Linked DNA regions of Homo sapiens. The protein of the gene in region 1 purifies or fractionates together with the protein of each later gene. This does not show direct contact. Each region holds a gene or a part of one and is shown in the gene's direction. Other genes may lie near its edges.

Evidence for each region.
Region 2: the proteins of FUCA1 (region 1) and PLOD1 fractionate together in Homo sapiens (co-fractionation; one large-scale study listed by BioGRID). This does not show direct contact.

The regions. Positions count from the first base shown.
Region 1 is NC_000001.11:23,850,796-23,855,980, reverse strand, and holds part of FUCA1 (tissue alpha-L-fucosidase precursor), read left to right. Parts: intron 1-1,420; coding exon 1,421-1,621; intron 1,622-5,185. UniProt on the Homo sapiens protein: Alpha-L-fucosidase is responsible for hydrolyzing the alpha-1,6-linked fucose joined to the reducing-end N-acetylglucosamine of the carbohydrate moieties of glycoproteins.
Region 2 is NC_000001.11:11,950,771-11,955,955, forward strand, and holds part of PLOD1 (procollagen-lysine,2-oxoglutarate 5-dioxygenase 1 isoform 2 precursor), read left to right. Parts: intron 1-1,852; coding exon 1,853-1,965; intron 1,966-4,059; coding exon 4,060-4,123; intron 4,124-5,185. UniProt on the Homo sapiens protein: Part of a complex composed of PLOD1, P3H3 and P3H4 that catalyzes hydroxylation of lysine residues in collagen alpha chains and is required for normal assembly and cross-linkling of collagen fibrils.

The DNA.
Region 1 (5,185 bases):
TATCTGTCTCCTCTGCTAGTCTCTGCTGGATGGTTGAGGGCAAGACCTCTGTTTTATTCACCTTGGAGACCCAGTATCTGCCCACAGTGTGAGCCCCATGGTAGTTGTTGAGTAAATACTTATTGAATAAGCGGATGGGTAGGTGTTGAATGAAGAATTAGGATTGTTAATACCCCATTTTTCTCTGAAATGGCTTTTACATACCTGTTCTTGAATTGATCTTGAGTTGTCCTTTTCAATTCTGTGACCCATGATGCCCAGACATTGATAATCAAGTACCAGACATTGGATTGAACTAGTTACAAATAATGACTATTCTTCTATTTCTCTTTGGCACTTAACTAGCTTCCATAGGAGAAACTTCATACCAATGTGAATGACTCTAAAACAGGCAAGAAATGGGAATTTTAAACTTTTAATAAATCTCTTTTTGCCGTGATGAATTGAACATGGTTTCAGTTTTGTTTTTGTTTTTGTTTTTGAGACGGAGTCTCGCTCTGCTGTTGCCTAGGCTGGAGTGCAGTGGCACGATCTCGGCTCACTGCTACCTCCGCCTCCCAGGTTCAAGCGATTCTCCTGCCTCAGCCTCCCAAATAGCTGGGACTACAGGCATGTGCCACCATGCCCAGCTAATTTTTTGTATTTTTGGTAGAGACGGGATTTCACCGTGTTAGCCAGGTTGGTCTCTATCTCCTGACCTCATGATCTGCCTGCCTTGGCCTCCCAAATGGTTTCAGTTTTTATCTTGTATTGGCCACTCTGTTATAAAATATGCTGCATTTAACATTTACATTAAGATATTCCATGTATGATTTATCATTCTTCAGCTAAACCTTGAAGTAAGAAAAAGAATTTGCTATTTTTTTTTTTTTTGAGTGGGATTGTCTTAAGACTTTTTTTTTACGTAAGTAAGGCTGGGATTATATAGTTGGAAAACAGCCTGCCATGGGTTCAGATACCTGATTTGTAGTTCCAGCTTTTGAAACTGCCTAGGGGCATGGCCCCAGGCAGGTCCTCTCCTGTTCATTTCTCCTCTTATAGAAAAAGTGATTTACCAGATGATCTTTAAAGCAAGCTCTCCCAGCCCTGACATGTATCTCTGCAGCAGGGTTTCTCTACCTCAGTACTGTTGACATTTAGGGCTGAATATTTCTTTGCTGTGGGGGCTGTCCTGTGCATTGTAGGACGTTTAGTAACATCCCTGGTCTCTACCCACTAGATGGCATACCACCCCCGTTGTGACAATCAAAAATGTCTCTAGACTTTACCAAATGTCCCCTCCAGAGCAAAATTGCCCCCAGTTGACAGCCACTGCTCTAGACTAAGTTTCTTGCTTCCAAATAGAGCCTTACCAAAGTGTATTACATAAAGAAGTCAAGTGGTTTTACTCCTCATGACCAAATATTCTTTCCCTCCTTAGGATGAGGTGGTAGTAAATGACCGATGGGGTCAGAACTGTTCCTGTCACCATGGAGGATACTATAACTGTGAAGATAAATTCAAGCCACAGAGCTTGCCAGATCACAAGTGGGAGATGTGCACCAGCATTGACAAGTTTTCCTGGGGCTATCGTCGTGACATGGCATTGTCTGATGTTACAGAAGAATCTGAAATCATTTCGGTAAGAGCACCTTTGAGTTTTTTGTTTTTGTTTTTTTTTTTTTAACATGCAGTATGATTTATTTTATATAATGTTCAAAAGCTTGCAAAAACAGCATATTGTTTACAGATGCATATTTTGGAGGTAAAATTATGAAGAAAAGCGAGATCATTATAAACAAAATTTAGGAGGGGGCTGGGATGGAGAAGGGCATGCAAAAGGGCTTTAACGGTGTTGGTTGTAATCTATATCTTAAAGTGGGTGTGGGTAGTAGGGTGTCCAGTTTTTTATTTATTTATTTATTTATTTATTTATTCTTTATTGATCATTCTTGGGTGTTTCTCACAGAGGGGGATTTGGCAGGGTCATAGGACAATAGTGGAGGGAGGGTCAGCAGATAAACAAGTGAACAAAGGTCTCTGGTTTTCCTATGCAGAGGACCCTGCGGCCTTCCGCAGTGTTTGTGTCCCTGGGTACTTGAGATTAGGGAGTGGTGATGACTCTTAACGAGCATGCTGCCTTCAAGCATCTGTTTAACAAAGCACATCTTGCACCGCCCTTAATCCATTTAACCCTGAGTGGACACAGCACACGTTTCAGAGAGCACAGGGTTGTGGGTAGGGTCACCGATCAACAGGATCACAAGGCAGAAGAATTTTTCTTAGTACAGAACAAAATGAAAAGTCTCCCGTGTCTACCTCTTTCTACACAGACACGGCAACCATCCGATTTCTCAATCCTTTCCCCGCCTTTCCCCCCTTTCTATTCCACAAAACCGCCATTGTCATCATGGCCCGTTCTCAATGAGCTGTTCGGTACACCTCCCAGACGGGGTGGTGGCTGGGCAGAGGGGCTCCTCACTTCCCAGTAGGGGCGGCCGGGCAGAGGCGCCCCTCACCTCCCGGACCGGGCGGCTGGCTGGGCGGGGGGCTGACCCCCCCACCTCCCTCCCGGACGGGGCGGCTGGCCAGGCGGGGGGCTGACCCCCCCACCTCCCTCCCGGACGGGGCGGCTGGCCGGGCGGGGGCTGACCCCCACCTCCCTCCCGGATGGGGTGGCTGCCGGGCAGAGACGCTCCTCACTTACCAGACGGGGTGGCTGCCGGGCGGAGAGGCTCCTCACTTCTCATATGGGGCGGTTGCCAGGCGGAGGGTTTCCTCACTTCTCAGATGGGGCGGCTGGGCAGAGACGCTCCTCACCTCCCAGACGGGGTCGCGGCCGGGCAGAGGCGCTCCTCACATCCCAGACGGGGCGGCGGGGCAGAGGCGCTCCCCACATCTCAGACGATGGGCGGCCGGGCAGAGACGCTCCTCACTTCCTAGATGGGATGGCGGCCGGGAAGAGGTGCTCCTCACTTCCTAGATGGGATGGCGGCCGGGCAGAGACGCTCCTCATTTTCCAGACTGGGTAGCCAGGCAGAGGGGCTCCTCACGTCCCAGACGATGGGCGGCCAGGCAGAGACGCTCCTCACTTCCCAGACGGGGTGGCGGCCGGGCAGAGGCTGCAATCTCGGCACTTTGGGAGGCCAAGGCAGGCGGCTGGGAGGTGGAGGTTGTAGCGAGCGGAGATCACGCCACTGCACTCCAGCCTGGGCACCATTGAGCACTGAGTGAACCAGACTCCATCTGCAATCCCGGCACCTCTGGAGGCCGAGGCTGGCGGATCACTCGCAGTTAGGAGCTGGAGACCAGCCCGGCCAACACAGCGAAACCCCGTCTCCACCAAAAAAATACGAAAACCAGTCAGGCGTGGTGGCGCGCACCTGCAATCGCAGGCACTCGGCAGGCTGAGGCAGGAGAATCAGGCAGGGAGGCTGCAGTGACCCGAGGTGGCAGCAGTACAGTCCAGCTTCGGCTCGGCATCAGTGGGAGACCGTGGAAAGAGAGGGAGAGGGAGACCGTGGGGAGAGGGAGAGGGGGGAGAGGGAGAGGGAGAGGGGAGTTTTTTGTTTTTTTTAATGAAATGGGGTCTTGCTCTGTCATGCAGGCAATAGCGCAGTGGCACGATCATACCTCACTGTAACCTCAAACTCCTGGGGCTCAAGTGGTCCTCCCACCTCAGCCTCCTGAGTAGCTAGAACTACAGGTGTGCACCTCTACAACCAGCTAATTTTTAAATTTTTTGTAGAGACAGGGTCTTGCTATGTTGCCCAGGCTGGTCTCAAACTCCTGGCCTCAAGAGATCTAGCCTCAGCCTCCCAAAGCACTGGATTACAGGCATGAGCCATGGCAGCTGGCCTGAGTTCACTATTTTTTAACTATGGATCTCAAACCACTTTTTATTATTATTATTATTATTATTACCTTCTAACATACTATATGATTGATTTTAATTATTTTTTTCCTCTTTTTTTAAATTTTACTTTAAATTCTGGGATACAAGTGCAGAGTGTGCAGGTTTGTTTCATAGGTATACATGTGCCATGATGGTTTGTTGCAAACTATCAACCCGATATCTAGGTTTTAAGCCCCACATGCATTAGGTATTTGTCCTAATGCTCTCCCTCCCCTCACCCCCACATTCCAACAAGCCCTGGTGTGTGATGTTCCTCTTCCTGTGTCCCATGTGTTCTCATTGTTCAACTCCCACTTATGAGTGAGAACATGTGGTGTTTGGTTTTCTGTTCCTGTGTTAGTTTGCTAAGAATGATGGTTTCCAGCTTCATCCATGTCCCTGCAAAGGACATGAACTCATTCTTTTTTATGGCTGCAAAACCAGCTTTTTTATGTAAGAGTGATGTCCAGCTTCATCCATGTCCCTGCAAAGGACACATTCTCTTTTATGGCTGCAAAACCAGCTTTTTTATGTAAGAGTGATGGAAGTACTCTGGATAGAAGTGCAGGTCAATAGAACCCTTTTAAGGACATTGAATAGACTAACAGAAACCTGTCCTAAGGAAATAATTAGAGTTACACAAGAAAGTTGTGCAGAGGTCCTTCCCAGGATTATTTGTATGTATGTATGTATGTATGTATGTATGTATGTATGTATGTATGTGTATATTTATTTATTTATTTATGAACGAACTTCACTCTGTCACCCAGGCTAGAGTGCAGTGGTGCGATCTCGGTCTGCTGCAACCGCCGTCTCCCGGGTTCAAGCAATTCTCCTGCCTCAGCCTCCCGAATAGCTGGGAATACAGGCACGTGCCACCATGCCCAGCTTATTTTTGTGTTTTTAGTAGAGACAGGGTTTCTTCATGTTGGCCAGGCTTGTCTCGAACTCCTGGTAACCATAAAAATGTTGACAAATTTAATATGGGTTAATGTTTAGAGCACTGAATGAAAAAACAGTTACATATTGGCTGGGCACAGTGGCTCATACCTGTAATGCCAACACTTTAGGAGGCCAAGGTGGGAGGATCCTTTGAGGCCAGGAGTTCAAGACCAGCCTGGCCAAAATAGAAAGACCCCATCTCTATTATTATTATTATTTTTAATAAAGTTACATATTGGCTGGGCATGGTGGTGGCTCACACTTGTAACTCCAACACTTTGGGAGACCAAGACAAGAGGATTGCTTGAGGGCAGGAGTTTAAGACCAGCCTAAACAACATAGTGAGACCCCATCTCTATTTTAAAAAAT
Region 2 (5,185 bases), about 12 Mb from region 1:
ACGTCCAATGCCAGTCACCTGTCTACTACTTTTTAAATTTTGAGACGGCATCTCAGTCTGTTGCCCAGGCTGGAGTGCAGTGGTGGGATCTCAGCTCACTGCAGCCTCCGCCTCTTGGGCTCAAGCAATCCTCCTGCCTCAGCCATCCAAGTCACTGGGATTACAGGCATGCACCACTATGCCCGGCTAATTTTTGTATATTTAGTAGAGATGGGGTATCGCCATGTTGGCCAGGTGGGTCTCGAACTCCTGGCCTTAAGTGATCCACCTGCCTCGGCCTCCCAAAGTGCTGGGATTATAGGCATGAGTCACCACACCTGGCCACCTGCCTCCTACTTCCTAAAGATCTCTGGAATCTGCTCTCTCTGGCCCACAGTTCACTGCCACCATTCTCACTGGGCTCCTGGCCGTTGGTAGGAGCCTCCTTACTGCTCTGCCATTCCCTACCCTCATGCCCTTCCAGGCCATTCTCCATCCAGCAGCCAGAGGTGTCTTTAAACGATGCAAATCCAAGGCCAGGCGCGGTGGCTCACGCCTGTAATGTCAGCACTTTGGGAAGCCGAGGTGGGAGGATCACTTGAGGCCAGGAGTTCAAGACCAGCCTGGCCAACATGGCGAAACCCCATCTCTACTAAAAATATAAAAGGTAGCCGGGCGTGGTGGTACACGCCTGTAATCCCAGCTACTTGGGAAGCTGAGGCAGGAGAATCTCTTGAACCCAGGAGGTAGAGGTTGCAGTGAGCTGAGATGGTGCCACTGCACTCAAAAAAATAAATAATTTTTTTAAATAAAAAATAATACTATATTTTTTTATAATGTAAAATATATTATATATATTATATATAATAATTTATATAATATATATAATATATATATTGGTGGCTCATGCCTGTAATCTCAGCACTTTGGGAGGCCGAGGTGGGCGGATCACGAGGTCAGGAGATCGAGACCATCCTGGCTAACACGATGAAACCCCGTCTCCACTAAAAATACAAAAAATTAGCCAGGTGTGGTGGCAGGCGCCTGTAGTCCCAGCTACTCGGGAGGCTGAGGCAGGAGAATGGCATGAACCCGGGAGGCGGAGCTTGCAGTGAGCCGAGATCGTGCCACTGCACTCCAGCCTGGGCGACAGAGCGAGACATTGTCTTAAAAATAAATAAATAAATAAAGATGCAAATTCACACACATCACTTAATGACTTTCCACTGCACGGAGAATAAAATCCACAGGCCTCTTTTCAACCTTAGATGGGGATCTGCCATCTGCCCTCAACAGACACTTTTTTCCACTGGTCCAGAGTAAGCACAGTCCAGATGGCCTTGCCCTGGCCCAGGCCCAGGAGTAGGGATGTCCCATTGCTCTTGTGGTTGCTTGTCACCAGTCTGTACTCTAGCCAGGGGCCCATGTGGGCTTCCCCACTATGCCAGGTCTCAGCCCCCAAGGCACTCTGTGAGCTTGGCCCAGCCTTTCCCTTCTCTGGGCCAGGTTTCCCAGATAACTGTAAAAAGGGACACCAGGCCTGTATCCTCCCAGCCCTGCTCTCCAGGGGCTCCTCGTACAATCCGTTTCTTCACCACCTATATGGTGCCCAGCACTGAACAGTACAGCTTAGTGGGCACCATTGGTCTTATTCTTGGGGTCATTAGGAACTCATTAATAAGTGACATTCACTGGCAGCCCCATTTCCAACCTGCAGCCCCACCTCCTGTCAATTCAGGAGGACTTCTGAGAGGTGACAGGGTTTGTGGGCATATGAGTGGAGGTGGATAAGAGGGAAGGGTGGGAGGAGGCCCCTGACTTAGAGGCTGGAAGCTAAGGGTCCGTCTTGGTGTCCCCACCCACCAACCTTCAGGCTTCATCGGTTATGCCCCCAACCTCAGCAAACTGGTGGCCGAGTGGGAGGGCCAGGACAGCGACAGCGATCAGCTGTTTTACACCAAGATCTTCTTGGACCCGGAGAAGAGGGTAAGAGGCAGTGGGCGGGCCAAGGAGAGGGGGCTGGGGATCCACCGGCCAGGCTGCACGGGAACAGCTCCTCTCAGGCCTGAACCCCTGGGTTGGTGTCTTAGTCTATGCAGGCTGCTCTGACAAACTGCCATAGGCTGGGTGGCTCCCAAACAACGGATGTGGATTTCTCATGGTTCTGGAGGCCGGAAGGGTGAGATCACAGTTGGGTTCTGGTCAGAGCCCTCTAACTGGTACAGACACAGCTGACTTCTCTCTGTGTCCTCAGATGGTGGAAGGGGGTAGGGAGCTCACTGGGGCCTCATTGATAAGGACACTAATCCTATTTTTTTATTTTTGGGATGGAGTCTCACTGTATTGCCCAGGCTAGAGTACAGTGGTGCGATCTCGGCTCACTACAGCCTCTACCTCCCTGGTTCAAGCGATTCTCGAGCCTCAGCGTCTCGAGTAGCGGGGACTACAGGCGTGCACCACCACGTTTGGCTGATTTTTGTATTTTTAGTAGAGACAGGGTTTCACTACGTTCGCCAGGCTGGTCTCGAACTCCTGTCCTCAGGTGATTTACCCGCCTCGGCCTCTCAAAGTGCTGGGATTACAGTCGTGAGCCACCGTGCCCGGCTGTCGGGTCTTAAAGAGGCAGCATTGTTCATTGGTTCAGAATAAGGACTTCAGGGCCAGGCTGCCTGGGTTCCAATCCCAGCTCACCATTTACTAGCTGTGTGACATTGGGCAACTTCTCTGTCCCTTGTTTTTTCCGTTATGAAATGCAATAATGGGCCAGACCCAGTGGCTCATGCCTGTAATCCCAGCACTTTGGAGGCCAAAGCGGGTGGATCACCTGAGGTCAGGAGTTTGAGACCAGCCTGGCCAACATGATGAAACCCTGTCTCTACTAAAAATATAAAGATTAGCCGTGCGTGGTGGTGGGTGCCTGTAATCCCAGCTACTCAGGAGGCTGAGGCAGGAGAATTGCTTGGACCTGGGAGGCGGAGGTTGCAGTGAGCCGAGATTGTGCCATTGCACTGCAGCCTGGGTGACAAGAGCCAGACTCCATCTCAAAAAAAAAAGCAATAATGATAATACTTTCTCACAGAGATGTTGTCAGGATTAAATTGATTAATATATGTAGAATAGTTTATTTATTTATTTGAGACAGGGTCTCACTGTCACCCAGGCTGATGCGCAGTGGCAGAAACATAGCTCACTGCAGCCTCAGCCTCCCGGACTCAAGCGATCCTCCCACCTCAGCCTCCTGAGTAGCTGGGACTATAGGCCTGCGTCACCATGTCTGGCTAATTTTAAGATTTTTTTATAGAGATGAAGTTTTGCTATGTTGCCCAAGCTGGTCTCAAACTCCTGGGCTCAAGTGATCCTTCTGCCTCAGCCTCCCAAAGTGCTGGAATGACAGGAGTGAGCCACCGCACCCGACTCGTGTAGAATATTTGGAGTAGCGGCCAGGTGCGGTGGCTCACACCTGTCATCCCAGCACTTTGGGAGGCGGGGGGCGGGGGCGGATCACCTGAGGTCAGGAGTTCGAGACCAGCCTGCTCAATGTGGTGAAATCCCATCTCTAGCAAAAAAAAAAAAAAAAAAAAAAAAAATTAGCTGGGTATGGTGGCACATGCCCGTAGTCCCAGCTACTCAGGAGTCTGAGGCAGGAGAATCGCTTGAACCCAGGAGGCGGAGGTTGCAGTGAGTCGAGGTCGTGCCATTGCACTCCAGCCTGGGTGACAAGAGCGAAACTCTTTCTCAAAAAAAAGAATATTTGGAGTAGCTATGTGCGTGTAGTGGAGTGCTTGGCAGGTGCTGGTTACTCTTAACGGCCGTCATTGTTGTAGGTGAGCCGGCTGCATTCTTAGATTCCTTCCAGTTCAGAGTCCCTGGTTTTCTGTGAGTAGAGCCACTAGACTGTAGACCCCAGGAGCTTGGCTGCTGGCCTTCTCTGGGCACCTAGCTGCCCTGATGTGACGTGGCAGAGTCGGTGTGGGGAATGAGGGCTGAACTTGGGGACAGATTCCCCACACTGGGTGAGATGTAGCCCCAGCCTCCCCCAGGGCCTGTCCCTGCTGCAGTCTGGTACCTTCTTTCCTGCAGGAGCAGATCAATATCACCCTGGACCACCGCTGCCGTATCTTCCAGAACCTGGATGGAGCCTTGGGTGAGCAGCCCCCACGGGGAGGGGTGGATCCTCAGAGGGGTGATAGGAAGAATTCCAGGCAGGGCCCGAGCCCAGGGAGGAGAAATGGGCTGCTTCTTTCTGGCCATTGTGCTGAGAGGTCACTGGCCTCATCCCCAGGTCCCCAGGGGCCACTTGGATATCCTGGCGCAGAGCCATGTCTCTCTTGGGGGCGGGGGACAAGTGAGCATTCAGCCTGGGAGGAGTTGGGGGATGCGCACAGCAGGTGCTGGACCCCCTGCCCTGCATACCAGGTCCTTACAGGTGGGCCCTCTTTCCCCACTTTCCCGGCCCTCCCACCTTCCAGGTGAAGGAGTCCTGGGCTAGGGGCAGGAACTCAGCTGGTGGGACAGGCAGCTTGGGAAGCAAAAGGCTACTTGACCCTTGATGCCGCAAACATCCCTGGGCCTGGCCTCATGTCTGTGGCTGGTGATGACATTGCTTTGCCGCAGGTCTTCCTGTCTTCCTGAGTGACCTCAGGCAAGTCACACCTCCTCCCCACAGGGGACTCAGTTTTCTTATCTTTACAAAAGGGAAGTGAACCGGATCCACTGATTGCTGATTTTGTGGATAAATGGGCCCTTTTGAGAATCTGATGAAAGCTACGGCTCTGCTCCCAGAGAAACGCAGAAAATGCCCTTTGCCTGTGGTTTCTGGGGGTTAAGAAGCACTGAGTTCAGATCCACGCAGGTCAGGAGCTATCTGTTTTCCTTTTTTTTTCTTCTTTTTTAAGATGGAGTCTTGCTCCATCGCCCAGGCTGGAATGCAGTGGCGAATTCTCGACTCACTGCAACCTCCGCCTCCCAGGTTCAAGTGATTCTCCTGCCTCAGCCTCCCAAGTAGCTGGGATTACAGGCGCACACCACCATGCCCGGCTAATTTTTGTATTTTTTTAGTAGAGATGGGGTTTCACCATGTTGGCCAGGCTGGTCTCGAACTCCTGACCTCAGGTGATCCACCTGCCTTGGCCTCCCAAAGTGCTGAGATTACAGACGTGAGCCATCGTGCCCAGCCCTATTTTAATTTTTAAAATAGAGACAGGGT